7 linked regions of the Homo sapiens genome follow. The protein of the gene in region 1 interacts with the protein of each later gene in a pairwise test. Each region holds a gene or a part of one and is shown in the gene's direction. Other genes may lie near its edges. The genes, in order: TRAF3IP1, TRIM9, AKAP6, C20orf96, MYO5A, TRIM3 and FAM135A.

Evidence for each region.
Region 2: the proteins of TRAF3IP1 (region 1) and TRIM9 interact in a two-hybrid assay, tested with the Homo sapiens proteins (one large-scale study listed by IntAct).
Region 3: the proteins of TRAF3IP1 (region 1) and AKAP6 interact in a two-hybrid assay, tested with the Homo sapiens proteins (one large-scale study listed by IntAct).
Region 4: the proteins of TRAF3IP1 (region 1) and C20orf96 interact in a two-hybrid assay, tested with the Homo sapiens proteins (one large-scale study listed by IntAct).
Region 5: the proteins of TRAF3IP1 (region 1) and MYO5A interact in a two-hybrid assay, tested with the Homo sapiens proteins (one large-scale study listed by IntAct).
Region 6: the proteins of TRAF3IP1 (region 1) and TRIM3 interact in a two-hybrid assay, tested with the Homo sapiens proteins (one large-scale study listed by IntAct).
Region 7: the proteins of TRAF3IP1 (region 1) and FAM135A interact in a two-hybrid assay, tested with the Homo sapiens proteins (one large-scale study listed by IntAct).

What each region holds. Positions count from the first base shown.
Region 1 is NC_000002.12:238,344,518-238,348,017, forward strand, and holds part of TRAF3IP1 (TRAF3-interacting protein 1), read left to right. Parts: coding exon 1-81; intron 82-2,937; coding exon 2,938-2,958; intron 2,959-3,500.
Region 2 is NC_000014.9:50,980,106-50,983,605, reverse strand, and holds part of TRIM9 (E3 ubiquitin-protein ligase TRIM9), read left to right. Parts: exon of another isoform or gene 1-184; coding exon 185-226; exon of another isoform or gene 227-324; intron 325-640; coding exon 641-664; intron 665-1,106; exon of another isoform or gene 1,107-1,283; intron 1,284-1,502; coding exon 1,503-1,806; intron 1,807-3,500. UniProt on the Homo sapiens protein: E3 ubiquitin-protein ligase which ubiquitinates itself in cooperation with an E2 enzyme UBE2D2/UBC4 and serves as a targeting signal for proteasomal degradation.
Region 3 is NC_000014.9:32,332,298-32,335,797, forward strand, and holds part of AKAP6 (A-kinase anchor protein 6), read left to right. Parts: intron 1-3,500. UniProt on the Homo sapiens protein: Binds to type II regulatory subunits of protein kinase A and anchors/targets them to the nuclear membrane or sarcoplasmic reticulum. May act as an adapter for assembling multiprotein complexes.
Region 4 is NC_000020.11:277,251-280,750, reverse strand, and holds part of C20orf96 (uncharacterized protein C20orf96), read left to right. Parts: intron 1-1,420; coding exon 1,421-1,579; intron 1,580-2,321; coding exon 2,322-2,421; intron 2,422-3,367; coding exon 3,368-3,500.
Region 5 is NC_000015.10:52,319,381-52,322,880, reverse strand, and holds part of MYO5A (unconventional myosin-Va), read left to right. Parts: intron 1-1,371; coding exon 1,372-1,522; intron 1,523-3,500. UniProt on the Homo sapiens protein: Processive actin-based motor that can move in large steps approximating the 36-nm pseudo-repeat of the actin filament. Can hydrolyze ATP in the presence of actin, which is essential for its function as a motor protein. Involved in melanosome transport.
Region 6 is NC_000011.10:6,456,942-6,460,441, reverse strand, and holds part of TRIM3 (tripartite motif-containing protein 3), read left to right. Parts: intron 1-2,145; coding exon 2,146-2,377; intron 2,378-2,594; coding exon 2,595-2,746; intron 2,747-2,965; coding exon 2,966-3,146; intron 3,147-3,412; coding exon 3,413-3,500.
Region 7 is NC_000006.12:70,525,008-70,528,507, forward strand, and holds part of FAM135A (protein FAM135A), read left to right. Parts: coding exon 1-1,691; intron 1,692-3,284; coding exon 3,285-3,445; intron 3,446-3,500.

The sequences.
Region 1 (3,500 bases):
ACTCAACTAGTATTTCAGATGATAATTCAGCTAGTCTGCGGTGTGAGAATATTCAGCCCAACCCCACAGAGAAGCAGAAAGGTAAGAATGGTCCAGTTTCGCCCTTTCCTGGCGAGAGCAGAGTGAGCCCTCCAGAACCTTCTTCTCAAAGGGCCGCAGCCCAGAGCCCGAGGTTTTCCTCTTGGGTCTGAACGTGGCAAGTGATTCACAGTGATTCACTTCTGCCTTTTTGCATAAACTAGAATCGAACATGGTGGTTTCTTGATAGCATGGGACCCACTCGTGTGCTCCCCCGTGCTCTGTAAGTGAGAGGAGGTGGCATGTTTCATCACTTGGGGGGTGTCATGAGTGGTCCCTGAAAAGTTTCGGGGTCACTACTTGGAGAGCCCCACCAGTCAAGAGGTGTACCCCCCAGACTTCATGGTCACAGTGCTGTGGCCACCATGATTTTTCTGTCTGTCATTTTCTTTGAGTGTTGAATTATACCTCAGTGGGATTTTACTTTCACCATAAATTTTCTCAGCCTTTAAAAAAACTTTGGTAAAATAGCCATTCAATGTTTGTGTTTTGAGGCCTTGGAGCTCCTAACAGGCCTGCAAGGGTACCAGTGCCCAGGTAACCAAGGCTTGTGCAGGTGGCAGCGGCAGGGTGGGGTGTGGCCAGGGGAGGGCTGATGTTTGTTGATTTGTTCAAACAGAAAATTATCTGTTGAAGGCCTACTGCATGTCAGCCCTGAGGCTGGGAGCGCATGAGCCAGTGAAGTCAGGCTGGCCTCCTGCCTTCCTGGTGCAGATGAGGCTCGAAGATCAACCGAAATCGTTTGATGGGGTGGCAGTCTGGGACGGGAGGGGCCTTGGTTGGTGAGGGTGGCCCAGAAAGCCTGCAGGGCAGAAGGGGCTGTATAAACCAAGATCCCGGCTGGGATGCGACTGCAGCAGGGCTGGCTCAGCCCAGAGGAAGGGCCAGAGCCAGGTCCCTGTGCCAGCTTATGGAGTTTAGCCTTTATTGGAAGAGCAGCGGGAGGCTAATTATATCTTTAGGAGGAGCAGTATAATGATATTTAGATTTTAAAGAGTGGCCATGTTAATTAGGGAGGGTTAAAGATTGTGCAGAGAAGAGAGAGAGGCCTGGACTGTGGAGGCGCCCTGGGAGGGGAGAAGTGGTAGGATTCCAGGGCTGCTGGCACGTGCTGGGGGAGCTGGCCTGGAGCGTAGAGGGAAGGCCCAGGCTAGAGAGGAGCTGTGAGAGTTGCTGGCGCTGGGTGATGGCAGGAGCCTGGGTGGGGACTGGGTCACCTAGGACGAGATTGTGAGTGCAGGAGCTGGCAGAGCACTGGCGCTGTGGAAGCACAGGCGTCGGGGAGGATGGTGTGGGCCATGTGGCAGGTGCCTTGGGTTCTGGGTAACGGGGACTGGAAGTATCCATTGAAAGGTAGAGAGTTCACTGTGCTGACTTTCCTTCTGGGTATCGGCCTTGTGGTTGAATAACTGCACCTCTCAGGCACCTTTTTGAGTGCTGTGTTAATCCAGGGTCTGTTCCTAACACCCTGGTGTTTTGAAGAAAGAGCCGGGGATTTGAAACTGTGTCTGCTGCCTGCCCCCAGGTCGCACGAGGACTCTCAGTGCTGGTTTCTGCTAAGCACACGCTCCAGGCCGCACAGCCATGAGGAAAAGATCTTCTGCCACCTGCTCTTGGTCCCCAGCAGTCCCATCCCAGGGTTGAGCTGAGTCCTCTGCCCCCATTGGCCCAAAGTGCTGGGGTCTCTGAAACTGCCCTTGTAGTGGCACTATCTGGAACCACATTCTCCAGCCCCCTGCTAACCACTGTGCCCTCCAGTCCCCTAGGCCCTGGTGGGTGCCAGGCTACCCCCTGTGCTGTGGCACTTTGTGGGGTGTGACCTCTGGAGGTTCTCAGGCCCATACTAATAGAGTCCTCTAGAGCCTCCCGGTTCCCCTTGATCCACAAGCTTGGCCCCCTCTCTCCCTGCCAGAGCCACCCTCTTAAGGCAGCATTTATGAGCTCGTGGCTGTTATGCTCACAGAAAGTCCTCCTGTGAATAAACGAGCTAGAGGTGTCTGTAGAGTGCTCCTCACTCTGCTCGGTGTGGACCCTCACAATAACCCAGGCTGATTTCTCGAGGCTGCATGAACTGTTCCTGTCTGAGGCGGGGCCGTGTTAAACGAGGCGCTGCATCAGGCCCTGCTGCCTCCTCTCTGCCGTATAGTGTGCTGGGCTGTCATGTGAATCCATGCGCTTTCTGCTCTTCTGCAAATGCGTTCGTGCATCTTAAGAGTGTGAAACAGAGATTTCCCACCTGTGGTTTTGAATCACCCCACCCCTGTGGTGCCACTGCTCATTTACTTTGACCGTTTAGGTCACATTTGTCCTCAAGACAACACTTGAAGAAAAAGGATCCTGGGTGAAGGTGCAGAGGTGGGCCTCTGTTGAGCTGGAAGATTTTCTTCTGCTTTCAGGAGCTGATGGAAAAATGCTTACCAATCATGTCTATAAGATGGGCTGTTGTTGACTGTCTCCCAGTCTTTGGAACGGCCCGGGATTTGGTTGGCCGGGTTCAGACTGTTGCATCGTTCCCTCACATTTGGATGCACTTTTTCTGTGGCTCTGGCTTTGTCGATTCTTGTCTCATGAACTTGTTAACTTCCTCTCCGATGTGCTTTCTCCACATCCCTGTGTCCTGTTTCTATTTAGTACCATTTTATGATGCACAGTTTGTTTGCTCTTTGTTTTTCTATCTTTGAAAATAAAACAAAATGGCAATAGGGACATTAGAAAAGCGGCTATGAGGAAATGATCTTTTTTTCTTAGCAGACATCCAAAATTATGTACAGTGTGTTTTTTCTCCAATTCTGTTCTCATCATTTAATGTATTGAGGTTGACTACACGAAAGCTAATTTTCTGATGTGCTTTTTCTTTAGGTGACTCCACCAGTGATGCAGGTGAGGAATGGCCTTAGATACCTGTGTGTCATATCAATTGTATGCATGTGTGTGAATGTGAATGTGGACTCTCAGATTCATGCTTTATAAAGTGCATTAGTGAAAGTAACTTATTTTATGGAAAAAGATCATAACTACCCTAATGTATTTATTTATTTATTTATTTTTTGAGATGGAGTTTCACTCTTGTTGCCCAGGCTGGAGTGCAATGGCATGATCTCGGTTCACCGCAACCTCTGCCTCCCGGGTTCAAGCAATTCTCCTGCCTCAGCCTCCTGAGTAGCTGGGATTACAGGCATGCACCACCACGCCCGGCTAATTTTGTATTTTTAGTAGAGACGGGGTTTCTCCATGTTGGTCAAGCTGGTCTCGAACTCCTGACCTCAGGTGATCCACCTGCCTCGGCCTCCCAAAGTTCTGGGATTACAGGTGTGAGTTACTGCGCCTGGCCAACTACCCTAATTTAATTTGAAATTTAATTTATATGTTTTAAGTTTGAAAACAATACATTTCAGGATTTTTTTCCAGAATATAAAGTATAT
Region 2 (3,500 bases), on another chromosome or scaffold:
CATTTTGAAAGAGCAGAGGGGCAGTTTTTTACCCAACAAACTAAATAATATAAAAAGGGCTTTGTTTTTTCATGGATCAGGCCTCTGGTATCTATATTCAACTGGTGCTTTTTAAGCGTATACAAGTAATTTTTATCAACCTGGTTGTTGTTTCATAGCGTTGATGTGTAGTATCTCTTTATAGGATGCAATTTTGAGACACAATCTGCACCTTACTCTCAATTAGGCAAGTATACCTATTGTAATTATCTTTTACTTACGTGATTGGTGTGCTCAATTTCCTTCACAAAATAAATGGCGGCAACTTGTCTTATGTCAATAAAATTGTCTAATTGTCATTCTAACCCTATTATAGCAGTTTCTCAAACTCTTAAAAAATGGAAAAGATGCCTGTAGTGTTTAATGTTATGCCTCAAACCTTACTTTTCCCCCAGTTTTCTTTTACATCAGTGCAAAGCACTCTTTATGAGCACTAAATGTGGGTAAAGGTACAAGTCAGAGAGCACCTGTTTAGTATATGTGGCATTTTAAATTGAGTCCTTTTGGGGTACTAGTCTATCAAGAGAGACACATTTTCTTATCCATGTCAATTTTGCTTCCTATCTCTCTCCCCCATGCCTTTCACTTGGAATGACAACAGTTGACATTAAAAAGCTGTTGGCAGGTATGGAATAACCTTATTCTGTTACCAAATAGCAAAGACCAAAGTGCATGTGAGGTGTCTCACAGGTTTAATAAATCAGCAATTACATCTCTCGAGTGTGATATTTATAGGTGGCATTTAGAACTTGGGGCGTAACAATGCGTACAAAGACATCATTCTATCTGCACCTAATGTCCGAAATTCCTACTGCTCCAGCAAAATTTCTGACGTGTTAGTTTCAGGAGTAGCACGCAAACTGTGTTTTTTAAGTTATGCAGACAGCAACCTGTCCTACATGCAAGTCACAATCACTCATGAAAATTAGTTTATGTTGCTTATAGCTTCGCAGCTTGTGAGCTTTCACTAGAGCCGAGGAAGACTTCAAAGCGACTAGATGTTAGCACTTCTGCCGAAGGGATATTTCCTGATTTCACTCCATGTGTTTTATCCCTCCTCCATCTAGGACTCTAGCTCCTAGCCTCCCCGCCTCAGGGGTTACACAGGCATCTTAGCGCATCCCCTCTCCCTTTATGTCTCTGGTGCACTGTTCTGCCAGTCACCAGGTGAAGGGACTTGCACCTTCCAAAATCGATGCCACTTCACTCCCGGATCACCTGGTTGGGAGTGCAGTCTGAGCCAGGTAACCCCTGCTGAATCGGTCGTGTGTCCTCCGTCTGCTTCTGGTGCAGAGAGTACCAACTCCCAGGACGTGCCCCTGTCTGCCCTGGCCCTGGACGCCTCCTTCCTGCATGGCAGCATGAAAACGCTACACAACGCTCCTCACCCGCCCAGGAGTATGTTATGGTGCTGAGCTTGTTGGGTCTGTCTTAATAACCTGATTCCCTTCTGTTGTTCCCAGTGGCCTGGTTTGCTTTCGACCCTGGCTCGGCGCACTCGGACATCATCCTCTCCAATGACAACCTGACAGTGACCTGTAGTAGCTATGATGACCGGGTGGTGCTAGGGAAGACTGGCTTCTCCAAGGGCATCCACTACTGGGAGCTCACGGTAGATCGCTATGACAACCACCCTGATCCTGCCTTTGGTGTGGCTCGCATGGACGTGATGAAGGATGTGATGTTAGGAAAAGACGACAAAGCTTGGGCAATGTATGTGGACAATAACCGGAGCTGGTTCATGCACAACAACTCGCACACCAACAGGTACCCTGCAGCCCCCAAACCAAGCCTTCTTCACGTTGGCTTCTGATCAGGAGTGAGAGCCCCAGTTCAAAAACCTATTACATAGACCACATTCAGGAAATCAAACAGGTGGTCTACATTAAGTAGCACAGGCAATCTATGAGCCTCAGCTGAGTCCATGCTGGTGGTTTACTTTCTATATAATGATAGAGACTTGAGTACTTTCCTACTCCCTTCATTGCTGTATTTCACCCATGGCTGGAAACTAAGAATCCCAATGGATATCCATTATAAGAAAACAATCCAGGATGCTGAAACACCCAGACCTACAACTTAACAGAAAAGCACTTTTGGGCAAGTTACTTCGTTTTTTGAACCTCAGTTTCCAAATCCATCAAATTAGTACAATAAAATTTTTCCTTGTGGGAATCTTCTGAAGATTAAATGAAATATGTGAAAATGCCTTACATTGGAAGCACCTGAAAATAGTAGCCATTCTTCTTATTACGATTCATTAAACTAAAGCTTATGGATGCCAATTTGAATGGCTTTCTACTTATAGAGAACTCTCTTATTACTGTATTAATCCAGAGCAGCCAGTTTGCTAAGGAAAGGAAATACAGTAATCTCCTTGAGGTTTTCTTCTACCACCAAAATATAGATCATTATAATTGAACACATACTATAATGGATTTCCTTTCTCATTTGATTGTGTTCCTCAAATGTATTTTTCACAAATTTCCTAGGCAGAGAAATTTCTACTGTGGACCCTGGTCCACCTTATGCTCCAAGATTTCCCCAGGATACATTCTCATTAGTGTCTCTGAAAAAAAAAAAAAATACAGTAGTGTTCAACCAGATCAAAGGGAAAGCAAGTCAGACATTGGTAGGATAATTGGACCCCACTGTTTTATCTTTTTCTGTATGCTCATCACTGACCCTTCTCCAGCCTGTAGACTCCTAAAGCCTCCTTTTCCCTTGGATAGCTTCTATAGCATTCAAGTGTGTATTATTCGCTGTCACTTGAAGTGAACACACACACCATTTCACCATGAAAGCAAATCCTACTGGATGTAGATAAGTGGTTATCTTCAGTGATCGGCATTTTGTGGAACTCTCTGTCAATAGATTCTCAGTGCTATCACCCAAATGCCACACTTACTTTTTCCCTTTTAGCGTCTTTGTTTTGAAGTGCAGGAGTGAATAATGACATAACCATCACACTATGCAGAGAAACACATTCTTAATGCTGAACACATCTGCTTGCATGCAACCTGCATGTCACTTGTGCTTTCATTGTTAAACCTGTGAAGTAGCAAGAGGCAATTTGTAAACCTGTCTTTTAATGACTATGTACAGTCTGTATCCTGCATGCAAGAGGAAATGAATGACACAAATTCCTGTGCTCTGCTGAGATGAGGACGAAGTTCAATATTGCTAGATCTCAAAAAAATGGGAAAGACAAATCTGATCGTCCATTTTTAATGGCATTTTGTGAAACCATCAATTGAAGCATAAGACACAATTCTTTGTAAAATGGCATTTGTATGCAGGTTCTTTAAAATCACTACATCTCAGAGTATAATTATTTCACTGTACAGAGAAGAAGCCTCTTCTTCAGTGCTGTCATTTCACAGACAGCCTCCAAGTTCTTAATTCAAATGCAACAAGCCAAAAAACTGCTATCCTTCTGGAATGAGTTTTTCTGTTTAATG
Region 3 (3,500 bases), on another chromosome or scaffold:
CTCTATCACACGTACCCCACCCCTCCTCATTCTAATTGGAAAATCAGATTTCATATGTAGAATGAAATGTCATTTGCAACACTAAGGTTGATTTCACTGTAAGGATGAGCATGAATCTTGATCAGATGTGAATATTTACTTTGTACCCAGAGATTTAAGTAATGAAGAGTTGATGCTTAGACTTTTGCCACTGCCCTTGCTTGATATAACTTTCTAGCAGGATCTCTGTATGGAAAATGTTACATCAATAATTGTGGGCATGATGGAGTTGCACTCAAAGCAGGTCTTACCTGAGTCAGTAATGATTCAGCTTTGTTATAAACCTGTCTTATCAGCTATATTTGTGGTGCTTTGTTAACTTTAAGATGTTTGTATTCCCTGCTGTTGCACCAGGTTCTGTTCTCAACCTGGTGTTGAGAACAGAAGCAGAAACTTCTCTCACAGTCTGGAAAGTGTAATCTGAATCTATCTCTTAGGTTAAGAAGATAGAGGATTTATTTTGCTGAATGTATCAGTGGCTGAAACCAAACTCTGTCTATCTCTGACAAAGTACAAGAATGACAGTCTTGTGTAATAACCTGGAAGCCTTGTGTTTGAGGAGAGCTGATATAGTCATTTCTGTATCATCTTGCTCATCCCCAGCTATCCACGCCCAGCGTCATTATTGGGCTCTAAGGGCTGTTCTTTGTTTGAGTGTGGGGCTAATGCACACACTGACAGCATGTTGATATTGATTCCTGTATGGTGAATACTTAGAAATATTATTCCACAGGGCTCATTAGCCTTTTCTAGGTTCCAGGAAGAAGTTAACCTTTGTCCTAACCTGCTCCAAAGAGGCCCAAGCTTGTGTCTGCATGAGGTACAGGAATGAGAGGCTGATCAGAAAGCATCAAAGCTGCTAGGTACAATGACTACAGGAGTTAGGTTCCAATTAGGAAATAAAATAGCCAGTGGAATTTAGGGAAGTTGGTGGTCTTGCTACATGTCTCTGATTTTCTTCTATTTATAATCCTAGAACCCATGAATGGCAGTTTGTTTTGATCGCATGGATTCAATTCAATTCAATAAATATTTATTGAATATCTCCTATATGCCAGGCATTGTCAGGGAATCTATAGCAATGAGCAAGACAGATGCAAATCTCTTCCCCAGCTACATTCTAGAGGGGAAGGGAAAAATGGGTAAATTGGTAAAATAATTTATTTCCTCTAATACTGCAATACTATTTCTATTTACTTTTTATTCCATGTGTTATTAGAGAAGCCCATTATCTGTGCACATTTGTATAGGTACATATAGCTATATGGTTTATATGTGGAGGTAAACTTACTGCATTAAATAATAACTTTTTTTTTTCTTGCATGGGTTTGGATTAGAATCTTTCTGGATGTGGACAAGACCAATATGGCAATTAGTATTTTTTTGGTATAAACTATTTTGAGAAATAAAATTATAATCAGTCAAATAGTGCATGTCTATCTCAGTTGACAAACTTGACATATGGAAATATGAAATGTGTGTGGCAGATCAGTTAAGGAGAGATATTTTTGTTTTTATAAAAGATATTCATCACCTTTAAAAATTGTCCAGAGAGCCCTCTAAATTGAGCATTCCAGCCAGCCTGCTGATGGAGGTATGTATCATACAAGGTACCAACTACACACTTAGTTGTACAAGGACAGGTATACCAGTTACCTTCAGTCTCATCTAATCGCCCTAGTGTGCCTTACAGTATTGCTTTAAATGGGAAGCATTTCTCGAAACAATCATATTGACTGAACTCTGTAGATGGGCCCTGAGTGTGGTTTTTCAGAGGAATAGCAATCCATATAGGACTTTGGCCATGGCAACAGAGTTTTAGGTACAGTAGCCCCTTCCGCGCCCTTATTTGTGATTTAGCCTTTTGTGGTTATGGTTATCCGTGGTCTGAAAACATTCAATGGAAGATTGCAGAAATAAACAATAAGTTTTAAATTATGCGCTGTTCTGCATAGTGCAGTGAAATCTCTCACCATTACTGTTCTGTCCTGCCTGGGATGTGTATCATTCCTTTGTCCAGCATATCCATGCTGTATATGCTACCAGCTTGTTAAGTCACTTAATAGCCGTCTTGGTTTTCAGATCAACTATCTCGCTATCATAATGCCCATGTTCAAATAACCTTTATTTTACTTAATAATGACTCCAAAGCTCAAGATTAGTGATGCTGGCATATTGTTACAATTGTTCTGTTTTATTATTAGTTATTGTTAATCTCTTATTGTGTCTAATCTATAAATTAAACTTTATCACAGGTATATATGTATAGGAAAAAACATAGTATATGTAGGGTTTGGTGCTATCCATGGTTTCAGGCATCCACTGGGGGTCTTGGAACATATTCCCTGATAATGAGGGGGACTATTGCAGTTTGAATTAATAAGGCATACAGTTTCTTCTCCACGAGCACATACCGGTCAGTAATTGAATTCCTGAGTTGGCTTTAAGATTTGGTGAAGATAAAGGACAGACTTTGTTTTCCTCATAAGCCACCAGCCATATTTTTCTCTGTTCTTCAGCCATGGGGCATGCTCCAAACTCTTCCAGCCATCTTGCAGTGGTGTGCTTTGAGTCACAAGGGTAAGTAGGGAGAGAATGTGGAACCTTTATTTTATTTTCAGATTTTTTTTTGGAGACAGGGTTTTACTCTGTTGTTCAGGCTAGATTGCAGTAGTGCAATCATTACTCCCTGCAGCCTTGAAATTCTAGGCTCAAACGATCCTCCCACTTCAGCCTCCCAAGTGGTTAGGACTGCAGGTGCACATCACCCCACCTGGCTAGTAGAGCCTTTAGAATGGGGTCTCAAACTGGCTAATACATGAGCTAAACCTAGCCTGCAGCTTGTTTTGTATGGCTGCTGGGCAGGCTTTATGGGTGTGCAACCTGTGTAGTTGCATAGGGCCCTGCACTGAGAAGGGCCCACACTTAGTTTAATACTCTGCTGTAACCATCTTGGAATTCTTAATAATTTTTTAATAAGAGGCTCCACATTTTTATTTTACAGTGGACCTTATGTAGCCAGTCCCATATGGCCCTTTTGGTGCCCCCACTGATACTGCCTGAGCCCTGTAGATGTTTGAGTTTCAGACTCCCCACTTCCTCCTACTCTGGAACAATTCAAATAGAAATTGTAGTGCTTAGAAAAACTAAGGGACCATTGTCAAAACAACCCAGAGCAAGGCCCTTGTAGATGGTAATTCAGTGGCATGCAAAGGAACTCAGTGGCATTTCTTTTATAGGCAATGGGGGATATATTACATTATACTTGAAGATATTTGGTAGGTGAGGTTTATTTGTCACCACCATTGCTTTCAGGGGAGAAATCAAATCTTCTTTGCAAAGCAAGCTAATTAACCATCCTGTTGGTTCAATGTTTATATTAATTCTCTTGCCCTTTGTTTACTACTTGATTACTTTTATCACCTGCTTTGTTTAACTCTCATTTAAATTACACAACATAT
Region 4 (3,500 bases), on another chromosome or scaffold:
GCTGAGCTGGGATTTGAACCAAGGTGTGTCTAGGTTCAACATCCAAGTCTTAGTCACTACGTGGTTCAGCCATGCCTTGCAGTTTTAAGGCTACTCAGTTCTTGTTTTAGCATAACGGAAAGACAGACATTGGGATTCAGAAGTCTGGCTTTCCAGTTCCAGCCCTGCCACTTCTTGACTGTGTGACACTGGGCAAGTCATTAAACTCTCTGAGCCTCCATTTATCAGCAAAATAGAGTTAGTAAACATAAAGCTGTTGGAGGGTGAACAGATACCATGTGCCACCTGCAGAGCAAGGCACAGCACCTGGCCTGGCATGTAGAGGGCCCTCAGCAATTGTTGTTGTTATTGTTACTGTAGGTTTTATGCACCTGCTGGGTGTAACCTTAGGGGAGTACAATTGTTGTTGTTATTGTTACTGTAGGTTTTATGCACCTGCTGGGTGTAACCTTAGGGGAGTACAATTGTTGTTGTTATTGTTACTGTAGGTTTTATGCACCTGCTGGGTGTAACCTTAGGGAAGTACAATTGTTGTTGTTGTTGTTACTGTAGGTTTTATGCACCTGCTGGGTGTAACCTTAGGCGAGTCACTTAACCCTCAGACCCTCCTTGTTCCACTGGGGGCTGTTGTGTGAAATGAGAGTACTCATTGACTCCGCGGCCTGCCCGGAAATGCTGACGTTTATCATCCATTTTGCCTCCCCTGCTTCTCCTCCAGACATGGCGGTCGCTCTGCCACCTTCTTAACCTACCTGGGGCGTTTATTATTATTATTATTATTGGGACAGGAATCTTCCTCTGTCGCCCAGGCTGGAGAGCAGTGGCGCCATCTCGCTCACTGCAACCTCCGCCTCCCAGGTTCAAGCGATTCTCCTGCCTCAGCCTCCCCAGTAGCTGGCATTACAGGCACGCGCCACCACGCTCGGCTAATTTTTGTATTTTTAGTGGAGACGGGGTTTCACCATGTTGGTCAGGCTGGTCTCGAACTCTTGACCTCGTGATCGGCCCACCTTGGCCTCCCAAAGTGCTGGGATTATAGACGTGAGCCACCCCGCCCGGCCCTTACTATTATTTCTATATTTCATTGATTCTGAGAAGCCATTGATATGAAGGCACATCTTTATTTACCCACTAATAATATATTTGTTGATTAGTTGGTGACACGCCACCAACTGTAGATGCACCCGCACCTCAGGGATGTGAGATGATGGGTACACGTGCGTTTCCGAACGGATGAGAGTCCCGGAGCTCCCGGGCGGCGCAGACAATGGGGAACCGCCCAGCTTGGGCCGCGTTTACCAGCAGGAGGCCGCACGGGGGCGGGCGTCTGGCGGGGCCGGGGCGGCGGGTCCACGGGCTTTCGGGGGCTCAGGCCGGGCAGGGCGCAGCGCCGCCTCTCTGCTCTTCCCTCCGCCCGCAGACCTCGCTCAGGAGCGGGAGGGCCGCTCTGCGAGAGCTCCGAAGCCGTGAGAACTTCCTCAGCAAGCTCAACCGGGAGCTGATCGAGACCATCCAGGAGATGGAGAACAGCACGACCCTGCACGTGCGGGCCCTGCTGCAGCAGCAGGACACCCTGGCGGTGAGACCCGCGGCATCCGCCCGCCCTCCGTCCCTCCGTCCCAACCTCCGTCCCTCCCTCCCTCCCTCCGTCCCTCCGTCCCGCCCTCCGTCCCTCCCTCCCTCCCTCCCTCCGTCCCGCCCTCCCGCCCTCCGTCCCGCCCTCCCTCCGTCCCTCCGTCCCGCCCTCCCGCCGTCCCGCCCTCCGTCCCTCCCTCCCTCCCTCCGTCCCGCCCTCCCTCCCTCCGTCCCGCCCTCCCTCCGCGCACTCGCGCGCCCTCTCCTGCCTTTCCCCGCCCACTGCACGTGGTGCTTCCTCCACCTGGAAGACGCATTTCTTCACCCTTCACTCCCCTCACCTGGGCTTTGCAAGAGGACCGAGATGGGTTTCATCCCAGCGCGCCAGCACTCACTGGCCGGGAGACTTTTAGTTAACTTTGCCTCCCCGAGCTCTGTGAAATGCGGCACCATAGCACCCGTCCCAGAGGGGGTTCACCGGGCACATACTGTACCGGTGCGACAGAGGTCGCTGCTACCACCAACAGCATTTGCAAACACCTCTACGTGTAATAGCAAGCGATCTGTATGTCTTTATATAGTCCTTACAACAACCCTATGGGTGGACACTGTTACTGTCCCGATTAGCCTCTGGTCAGGTTTCTGGGAGTGAGGTTGGGACTGGGGACTCCTCTGAGGAAGTGCTGGGTGGCCGCCTCTGAGAGCCAGCAGAGCCTGTGGGTGAGTTGACTCCACCCCTCCCGCAGACCATCATCGACATCTTGGAGTACTCAAACAAGAAGAGGCTGCAGCAATTGAAATCTGAGCTTCAGGAGTGGGAAGAAAAGAAGAAATGCAAGATGAGCTGTAAGAATCCCTGGCAAATTCCTTGACCCTCCCCCCTGGCACCTTGGGGAGGTCAGCAGCAGAGCATTCACCTTGTACTTGCCATTCAGAAACCCTCAGCCCCATTGGCTCTCTTCTTGGCAGATGGGAATGCTAAGATACAGAGCGAATAGCATAGTTACCCAACACTTAGCTCTTTCCAGGCCCCGTATCTGGGTCTCTACCAATGTCTGCATTGTTACAGGCACACACTCAGTCATTGCAACTACTTGGAGGCAGGGAAGCTGTCCTCCCATTTTACAGATGAGGAAACCGAGGCTAAGAGAGGTGCAGTAGCTTGTGGAAGGTTATATAGCTAGGAGCCAGAATCCAATCCTAGCCTGGCTCTGTTTCCTGCCAAGGTCCTTCTGGGAGTCAGTGGCTGGGCTAGAACCTGGGTCTCCTGGCTTCCATCCTGCCTGGCCTGTGGTTCCTTTTCCCTGAGCAGACTACACACCTGCTGAGCAGAGGGGTGGTGGATCAGTCAACCCCAGACATTGGGGGTCTCTCTGGAGGAAGACAGGATAGACTTTGTCTTAATCCTGCCATGGGTTGTGTCTTGGGAGCCACTGTCACCCCATCTGCCTGGTCTCACTTCCTTGAGTGTGTCTCTGAGGAGACTGAAGTCTGGAGAGGGACAGTCTTGGCGAGAGCCACCCGGCAAGTCAGTGGCAGAGTGGGGACTAGTCTAGGGATCATGCACCAATTCCCTTCCTTTTTCCTACCCAGCATTGCCTCTTCTCCTGCAGGGGTGGAAAACCGTCTAGAGCCTTAACTTTTAACCACCTCCCAGCCCTGTGTGAGCTCACCTCAGCCCAGACCCCAGTTACTGGCCAAGGAGACCTTGCCTCCTGGGCCTCCTGGGGCCCAGGTGCTTGAGGGAAGGTCTTGCCTCCTGTCCCTGCTGACCTCCCTAACCCCTCCCCAGATCTTGAGCAGCAGGCAGAGCAGCTGAATGCCAAGATTGAGAAGACCCAGGAGGAAGTGAACTTCCTGAGCACTTACATGGACCATGAGTATTCCATCAAGTCTGTCCAGATCTCCACTCTTATGCGCCAGCT
Region 5 (3,500 bases), on another chromosome or scaffold:
ACATTGTGCACATGTACCCTAAAACTTAAAGTTTAAAAAAAAAAAAGAAAATTTTAATATTAATACTCTTGGACAATAAGAGGACCTTAAAATCCTTTAACTCTAAAAAAAAAAAGGGTGATCAAAAATCATGTCTTTCGATTTGTCCAAAAAAACTCTATTGTTTTTGTTTGTGGGGATATGTTCATTAGTTGTTTGATAGACTTCAAATATTTCAAAACTATGTAGAATATTAATAATGACTATTAAGGGCTGCTTTAGTATGTGTCAGACAGCACTTACTGTATATGGTGTTATTTATGATCATTAATTCTTACAGCATCTCTGTGAGGTAGGAATTATAGTCCAGTTTTACAGATGAGGAAGCCAAGGCTCACTGGGGCTCATTGATTTACCCAAGTTCTCTTGGCCACAAGGAGCAGAGCTGGGATCCTGGGTCTGGCACCGCTGAGGGCCCATGACCCTAGCCAACTGCCCTCCATGCCTCCCATCCCTTTGCCAGGAGGGCAGCAGAGAAGGTGCCCAGCGGCACTTCCTGAGCACTGACAGGCAGATGATGGGAAACACAGAGATGAGCAAGGCCTAGTCCCTGAGAAGATGGGGCCAACAGACCAGAATCCCTCAGAGGGGTCGTTGACTGCATCCTATCAGTCCCCACTTTCGGACCAGTCATTAAGTAGGTGGTAAGGAGGCAGATGCTTGGCTGTAGGGAGAATCCTCAGAGTAAGCACTTGCCTTTATCACGTAGCATCAGGCAAACAACGTGTTAAACTGCAAAGTGACTGGAAGAAGTGCCGCCCATTCAGTTCCATTTTAACAGATACCACCAAAGATTCCCTTCTAACCTCTGACTGAAAACCATGGTGTGGGTACTACGAAATAGAGTAAAGAGAACTTTTTGTATGTATTCACTAGTCTCTGTAGAAATCGGTCTATTTCAAGATTATATATGTCCTTTGGGTGTAGTTTTTAAGAATAGGACTATAAAGAACTGAAGTTAAGAGATAATTTAGATAATTTAGTGTTTGACAGTAAACCTGCTGTTTCAGAAGTGAAACACTCTATTTTTTTTTTTTTTTTTTTTTTTTAGTTAAGTTCCTCCAATTTGCTTCATTGACATTGCTATTGGGAAGACTTAAATGCTAGGTTGCCAAGTTAAGGTATTGTTCAAAAGCTAGTAAGAACTGGAGGGGGTTATGATGGAAGCAAACAAACACACATCAGCATTTGAGAATGTCAGTCCTGGCATTAGTGGGGAAGCTCCTTGGACAGAGCAGAAAAGAGCATGAAGATGCTGATCAAATTGGAGATAGTTAAACTGAAGAGACAGGTTACTTCATGTGTATCATTAACTTTGCCTTATGACTCTAGGGCTTTATGAAGCACAACACATCTCGCCAGAATGAACACTGCCTCACCAATTTTGACCTGGCTGAGTATCGGCAGGTGCTGAGTGACTTGGCCATTCAGATCTACCAGCAGCTCGTGCGGGTGTTAGAGAACATCCTTCAGCCAATGATTGGTAAGGCCAGGGCCCCACTGGGCATTGCAGCCTGCCTATCATTCATGCCCATCGATAAGTAGCCACCAGTGGCACATGTTTCAGGGCAGGTATTCATTTGGGGAGCATAAAGTAGTAAGATACAGGGCTAAAATTAGCCGAGGAATCCCAGAAACCCAGCCATAGTTAACTGGGATACATCGAAATCACTGTTTCCACAAGACTGAAACAGTAGTATATGGTTTCCTTCCCTAATGTTTACTGTTTAAATTCAGTTGAATGCATTGAATTTTAAAAAATTGTCTTAAGTTACCAAACATTGTTATCTTCCAGCAAATTATCAGCAGGCTCCCTTTTTTTTTTTTTTGAGACAGAGTCTCGCTCTGTCGCCCAGGCTGGAGTGCAGTGGCGCGATCTCAGCTCACTGCAAGCTCTGCCTCCCGGGTTCACGCCATTCTCCTGCCTCAGCCTCCCGTGTAGCTGGGACTACAGGTGCCTGCCACCACGCCCAGTTAATTTTTTGCATTTTTAGTAGAGACGGGGTTTCACCGTGTTAGCCAGGATGGTCTCAATCTCCTGACCTTGTGAGCCACTCACCTCGGCCTCCCAAAGTGCTGGGATTACAGGTGTGAGCCCCTGCACCCAGCCTATCAGCAGGCTCTTAAGGCTACTTCCAGCTACACTTTCTTTCCCCATGCATGCATTTTCCATGTTTCCACAACTTCTTCATTTCCCTTCTGTGGGCTCATAGTGTTCCCTTTGCTTTCATAGGCCACAGTTAACTAGCTATTTGAGACATCAAAAGCTGAAGAAGCCATGGGAGATGGCAATGTTTTCTTCAGATGTCCCTTAAAACGTCATTAAAGCACCCTAGGTTGGCAAAAATTTAGGAGGTAACACAGATACCAAGGTCAACTTCAGCCAGTTTTTCTATTGCTTTGCCTGTTTCTATTGGCTGAATAAGAAGTTCGCCTCAAAGAAGCCCCAATCTAAATCCTTACCCCCATCTCCCAGTCATTTAACAGCAACAACAAACATGCCGGTTCTAGGGAATCTGTGTTTAGCACAATTAAATAGCAAGATGAACCAGACGTGGCCTTTGCTCTCAAGGGGCTTGCTGTCAGGGAGTGGACATCTCAGAAACATTCTAAGGGAGGCATAAGCCAAATGCTAAGAGAGCACAACAGGGAAGCAGCCGGGCCACAGGTGAGAAGACGAATTCTGGGAGATGGAGGTCAGCCCAAGGGCCCACTGCTGTTGTGGGAAACCCAGAATAAGGAAGGGCCCAGCTCTCCAGACCCATACCACTCCCCTCTCCCACGTTTTCTCCAAGATGGTTGTCAGTGCCCTGCTTTTCTTACTGTTTTTGCCTCTGGGGCTCAGATAACATGGAGAATGCTTATCTTAACCCGAACTGCTACCTACCACTCTCAAAAGCCCACCCAAGACACACACACTTGTTCTATCACAAGGCTACTGCTTCTTAACGCTTCTTATTTTAGAAAAGACACCATTAAGTTTACTTAGATTCATAGTAAATTTTTGCAATTAAGAATTATTCCTTCAGTAAAGTTTAAAATCCGGAAGCCCTTTTGTAGTGAAGTTCCTTTTCCCTCTATTTTGGCACCCAGATCATTTTTTTCTTTTTTGAAATGGAGTCTCTCTCTGTCACCCAGCCTGGAGCCCAGATATGTGGTCTCAGCTCACTGCAGCCTTTGCCTCCCAAGTTCAAGTGATTGTCCTGCCTCAGCCTTCTGAGTAGCTGGGATTACAGGCACACGCTACCACGCCTGGCTAATTTTTGTATTTTCAATAGAGACGGGGTTTCCTTATGTTGGCCAGGCTGGTCTTGAACTCCTGGCCTCCAGTGATCCACCCACCTCGGCGGCCTCCCAAAGTGCTGGGATTACAGATGTGAGCCACCGTGCCCAGCTAATTTTCCTAAGTTGAATGTGCATGTGTTTGTGCACATGGATATGTGCACATGAAAGGTTCCCTT
Region 6 (3,500 bases), on another chromosome or scaffold:
CTCTCCTTCTCTCCTGACTCCTCCATTCATAAACATGCTCAAAACTCCCATGCCAAACAGGTAAAAACTCTTTCTAGCACCATCCAACCCCTCAACCAGCTCCTCATTGGAACTTTCAAGCTCCCCTTCACTCAACTTCCAGCAGTCAAGCTTTCCTTCTCCTGCCACTCCCTCCCTGTTTTCCCTACAGACAAAGTACCCTCACATTTGCCAAATTCAGTGGACATTTTCCTGTCCTTACCTTACCCAACTCGTCAGCTGCTTTTAACGCTGATGACTACTCATTCCCTCCTGGAAATGTACCACTCAGTTTTCTGCCCTAACACAGCTGCTCTTCCTGCCTCTCGGCCTGGTCTTCTTTGTTGTCCTCATTCAGTTTTTGCTAAGTGCTCTGTCCCTCTCTCTTATCACTGTCTATGCTTTCTTGTCTGATCTCATCCTCTCCCAGTGCTACCGAAGCCATCTAAATGTTGATGGCATGCCCATCTCTTGTCTCTAACCTTCATTCTCCTGTCTACTGGTGACCTCAACCTGGGTGTTTATTGTTACAGTAAATTCAACCAGGACAAGGCTGAACTTTCCTATAGCTACTCCTCTTTCTATGTTTCTCATCTTAGTGAATGTCACCACTATCCACTCAGTTATCAAAGCTAGGAATTTGGAAGTCAGCGAAGACTCATCATCTCTCTTGCTCCCCATATCTAATCAGACAACACCTCCCACCTTCCCTCCTTCTTAAACACTTCTCAAATTTATTTCCACCTCATAGTCTACATTACTATTGCCTAAATCCAGGTCTTCTTCACTTCCTACCTAGATGATTGTAAGAGTATGCTGGCTAAGCACATACTTTGCATTTGAAGACAGGCTTCAGCACCTACTGCTGTTGTTACCTTGGGCCACTTGCCCTTTCTCCTGCTAACAGAAACGTAATCAGAAAGCATGGCACCTGGCACATATGCACTTAATAAATGGTAACTAGCTGGTGATGCCACTGCCCTCGCCCCCCAACCCCATCTGCTGTCTCATTCCCTTTAAATTCACTCCCCACACAGAGGGGGTGAAGAGGAGCTTGGTAAAATATAAACCTGGCTATACCACTCTCTTGCAGCTTCCTATTGCTGGCAGGATAACTTCTAAGCTCCTTGACTTCTGTCACCATTCCTTGCCTTGGACTTTGTCTCTAGCCAGCCACATCAAACTGCTTACAGTTGCTTATTCATACTATGCTGCTTCTTGCTGCCTTCTGTATCTGGACTACCCTTCCCCCTCTGCCTGCACCATTCTTTGGTCAGGCTAACAATTATTTATCCTTGAAGATTTAGTTTGCATCAACTCTCTGAAGACTTTCCTGGACACCCTCTCCACCTGCTTGAGCCAGATGCATTTCCTTATCACTTTCTATCATTCCTTATATTAATAATAAGTAATACAAGTAGCCTACCATATATAGTGCTATTATGAGTCAGGCATTTTACATTTAATCCTCTTCAAATATAAGTAAGTACTTTACATGTAATCCTCTAACACTCTGTGAAGTCTGTACTTCTCCATCTTACAAAGGAAGAGTCCTTGGCTTGTCAAAGTTATGTAACTTGTCAGGGGTCATACAGTATAACAGGTGACCAACGGGGTGTTGGGCCTGGGCAGCCTAGCTCCAGGACCCATTCCCTTAATCATCATGCTATTTACTTCTGTACTATTCCTGTGACTTTTTTCTCTGTAGATGGGAAGTATTTTAAGGGTAGGCACTGTGCTTTATCTTTTTGTCCCCAGGGCTTGGCATAAATTTGGCAAGAGTAGACAGTAGTGTTAATGAGTTAAAGAAGTTGGGCAGGGGGTGCCTAGTTGCACATTCCTATGAGAAGCATTTGTAAACACCTGTGAAAGGTGAGCCTGTGTGCACACTGTGAGGAATGTGGATAGTCTGCTCTTCTGAGAGGGGTCGGGGTGTGTTCCTACTCAGTTGTAAGGGGCAAGGCCATTATACCTGCTGGCAGATGAGATGTGTCAAGCAGAGAGGTTTTAAAATGAAGTGTAATGGCACACCTGTGAGGGAAGGGGTTGGCACCCATGGGAAGTATAAGGAAGGGTGCACTTATGCCACCCCACCCACTCTGTTCTTTGACTCTCCTTCCTGGACAGATGTCTCCAAAACTATATCCCTGCCCAGAGCCTGACGCTATCCTGTCCAGTATGCCGGCAGACGTCCATCCTCCCAGAGCAGGGCGTCTCGGCACTGCAGAACAACTTCTTCATCAGCAGCCTCATGGAGGCAATGCAGCAGGCACCTGATGGGGCCCACGACCCGGAGGACCCCCACCCCCTCAGTGTAGTGGCTGGCCGCCCTCTCTCCTGCCCCAACCATGAAGGCAAGGTGGGCCCAAGCGAGGCCCAGTGAGGCCGGGACTTGGGGTGGGAGGAGGAGGAGAGGCATTGGGGGGTGCCGAGTGGCTGGGTGACAGGGTACTGCTCTGGATTAGTGGTCCAGGTAGGGGGTGCACTTAGAAGGTGAGGGGCAGGGAGGGCAGGTGGGGAGGGGACAAAGAAGTGTGATGTCTAGCCATTACCCGACTGGAGTCCTTGTACCGCAGACGATGGAGTTTTACTGTGAGGCCTGTGAGACGGCCATGTGTGGTGAGTGCCGCGCCGGGGAGCATCGTGAGCATGGCACAGTGCTGCTGAGGGATGTGGTGGAGCAGCACAAGGCGGCCCTGCAGCGCCAGCTCGAGGCTGTGCGTGGCCGGTAGGCACTGGGCAGGGTCCTGGGCTGGTGGGGCCACAGGGATGGTGTCTTAGCTCGGGCGGGGAGGGGAATAAAGGGTCTGGGAAGGGCAGAGATGGAAGTCTCAGGGAGGTCTCAGGAAGGAGATCTCCATGAGGGCAGCAGTAGGTTCCCCAGGGAGAAGGGAAAGTTCGGCAAAGCCACCCTCAGCAACTCTGGAATGAGATATTCCCCCTCCAGATTGCCACAGCTGTCCGCAGCAATTGCCTTAGTCGGGGGCATCAGCCAGCAGCTGCAGGAGCGCAAGGCAGAGGCCCTGGCCCAGATCAGTGCAGCGTTCGAGGACCTGGAGCAAGCACTGCAGCAGCGCAAGCAGGCTCTGGTCAGCGACCTGGAGACCATTTGTGGGGCCAAACAGAAGGTGTGTCTTGTGTTCACCCTTTCCTACCATCGTCCATTGTGATGGTGTTATTGCCTCCATTGTTCCTCTGTCTTCCACACCAGCTCCCCATTCCCCAGCCTAGATATTCTGCCTCCTGACATGCCCTCGGTAGGTGCTGTGGGCATCTGTGTCCTCTGTCCACAGGCACCCTCTTGTATTTTATGCCACAGTGCTACAACTTCAGTAATCACAGAGACTCCCCCTGTGCCAGTCTGCTCACCCACTCCTCCCCTACCCCTCATCAGGTGTTGCAAAGCCAGCTGGACACACTGCGCCAGGGTCAGGAACACATCGGCAGTAGCTGCAGCTTTGCAGAGCAGGCACTGCGCCTGG
Region 7 (3,500 bases), on another chromosome or scaffold:
GATTGCCATGATCATCAAACAACCCCATCTTTGGGAGTTAGAACAATTGAAATAAAGCCCAGTAATAAAGATCCTTTCAGTGGAGAGAATATAACTGTCAAACTAGGACCTTGGACAGAGCTTCGACAAGAGGAAATACTTGTGGATAATTTACTACCCAACTTTGAGTCCTTAGAATCTAATGGTAAATCTAAATCTATAGAAATAACATTTGAAAAGGAAGCTTTGCAAGAAGCAAAGTGTCTTTCTATTGGAGAATCATTAACTAAATTACGAAGTAATCTACCTGCCCCTTCTACAAAAGAATATCATGTTGTAGTAAGTGGAGATACAATTAAGTTACCAGATATTAGTGCCACATATGCCTCATCTAGATTTTCAGATTCAGGTGTTGAAAGTGAACCGAGTTCTTTTGCGACACATCCAAACACTGATTTAGTCTTTGAAACTGTGCAAGGGCAAGGTCCTTGCAATAGTGAAAGATTATTTCCTCAGCTTTTGATGAAACCTGATTATAATGTAAAATTTTCATTAGGAAATCATTGTACTGAGAGTACAAGTGCTATAAGTGAAATACAGTCATCTTTGACATCCATAAACTCTCTACCCTCCGATGATGAACTGTCACCTGATGAAAATTCTAAGAAATCTGTTGTACCTGAATGCCATCTAAATGATAGCAAAACTGTATTAAATCTAGGAACGACTGATTTGCCAAAATGTGATGATACTAAAAAGTCAAGTATCACTTTGCAACAGCAGAGTGTTGTATTTTCAGGGAACTTGGACAATGAAACTGTAGCAATACATTCCTTAAATTCAAGCATTAAAGACCCTTTACAATTTGTTTTTTCAGATGAAGAGACTTCCAGTGATGTGAAAAGTAGTTGCAGCTCCAAACCTAACTTGGATACTATGTGTAAAGGCTTCCAGAGTCCTGATAAATCTAATAACTCTACAGGGACAGCAATTACATTAAATTCAAAACTGATTTGTTTAGGCACTCCTTGTGTCATTTCAGGTTCCATTTCTAGTAATACAGATGTTAGTGAAGATAGAACTATGAAAAAAAATAGTGATGTATTAAATCTCACACAGATGTATTCAGAAATCCCTACAGTTGAAAGTGAAACTCATCTGGGTACAAGTGATCCTTTTTCAGCCAGTACTGATATAGTAAAGCAAGGGCTTGTGGAAAATTATTTTGGTTCTCAAAGCAGTACGGATATTTCTGACACATGTGCTGTTAGCTACAGCAATGCACTTAGCCCTCAGAAGGAAACTTCTGAAAAAGAAATTAGTAATCTTCAGCAGGAACAGGATAAAGAGGATGAGGAGGAAGAGCAGGATCAACAAATGGTTCAAAATGGGTACTATGAAGAAACAGATTATTCAGCTTTGGATGGAACAATAAATGCTCACTATACAAGCAGAGATGAACTAATGGAAGAAAGACTTACAAAATCTGAAAAAATAAACAGTGACTATCTGAGAGATGGTATAAACATGCCTACTGTCTGTACTTCTGGTTGTTTGTCCTTCCCGTCTGCACCACGAGAGTCTCCTTGTAATGTTAAATATTCTTCCAAAAGTAAATTTGATGCCATTACAAAGCAGCCAAGCAGTACTTCTTACAACTTCACTTCTTCGATTTCCTGGTATGAAAGTTCACCAAAACCTCAAATACAAGCGTAAGTAATGGAACGTAATAGTACCTGCTGCTAAATATATACATATATATATACACACACACACACATACACACACACACACACACACACACACACACACACACATATATATATAAAATCATAGATAGTGCTAAAGGATTGAGTGTCTATTTTGTTGTCTGGTTTCTGTAATACAAAAGTGCTTCTTTGATGACTATCCGAAATGGAGAAATGAACATAATATACCCTTGGCCAGACAGACCTATAGTTGCTGAATGATCGTGCTGTTCTGCTGTTCTATAGGATAGACATTCCTGATACAGATTTTCCAATGGTAGTTTTGTGTTAGAAGTATGGAATAACTGAGCTTAAAACCCTTTTTTCATCAGTCCCTCATTTCTCCTCCATTAACTTCCAGACAAAAGCCAAGTTTTATGAGTTTATCTAGGAAATAAGGATAATATTAGTTAAATGAGTAACAGGGTAGTGGAAACTTCTTGAACTTACCAGATGCTGATTGCCTTCAGCTAAGTCATTGGTTTCCAGAATTGAGATTTCATGTACCAGTAAAATATCCAGAAAAATCTGGCGATGATACAGGTTTACCAGCGTGCACTGGTTCTTAAAATATTCTATTGCCTCAGCCAGACTGAGTCATAATATTTGGGGTAAGAGGTCTTGGCATGTATATATATAGAGAGAGATTTTTAAAGTTCCCAGATTATTCTGATTTATACACAGAAATTAAGATACATAGTGTCTAAAGCTAGTGAAACCACTGAGGTAACAATAGCCAATTAAAAAATTGTGATATGCAGGGAAAATAAAGTTTATATCACCGTCTGGTTACTTCAGATTGTCTGAGTCATCAGAAAGCAATGATCTCTAATATAGACTTTATATATTTTTGGCCAGCTTATCCTACTCAGTTTAGTGTTCATCAGGTTCCTCTTCCAGCTTCACTTTATCAGTCCAAATGATGTATGTTAAATAGTTAATAATTTTTGATGTTTGCAATCCCCAAATTGGTTAGATTGTCCGTCATTGCAAACGAGTATATACCACTAATTGTATGCAGTCACATTCCCCTCTTCGTTCTGCTCCTTCTTATTGGTATTTTTAGAGAAAAATACAAATAACCTAATCTGCTAAATACTGTAACTCCATTCTCACTGTTACATTTTGTAAATCACTCCTTCCCTTCCATTTATGCAAGATTAAAAAGGAGCAAAGGGGATAAGATTTCATTACAGGATAAACATCAGATTATCACCTCTCCAGTCCCTCTCCCAGCTTTTCTGTGCATACAGTGTTAAATTTTGCAGAAAGTATAACTTCACTCAGAATGTTTTCTTAGAGTTGATTTCAAGTTTAAAAGAATATTTTCAAGTGATTTCAGGTTTAAAGTGTTCATTGTATTTGATAGAATATGTACTACAAATAATAAAGAAAATTACTCTCTGATTTCTAAATCACTTAGGTGATGCCACATATTTTCATGGTTTTAAAACCAAATATTGTTGGGTTTCCACTTCTACAATTCTCTAAATTCAGGAGGGTTCTAACAACTGAATATGATCCTTAGTAAAGAGTATCTTTTGTATTTTGCTTCAGCTTCCTTCAGGCAAAAGAAGAACTGAAGCTACTAAAACTTCCTGGGTTCATGTACAGTGAAGTTCCTCTGCTGGCATCCTCAGTACCTTATTTTAGTGTAGAAGAAGAGGATGGTTCTGAAGATGGAGTACATCTGATTGTCTGTGTGCACGGTTTAGATGGTATGTGACATCTATGGATGTAACCCAGAGCAACTCAATATATTTTTTTCCTAAT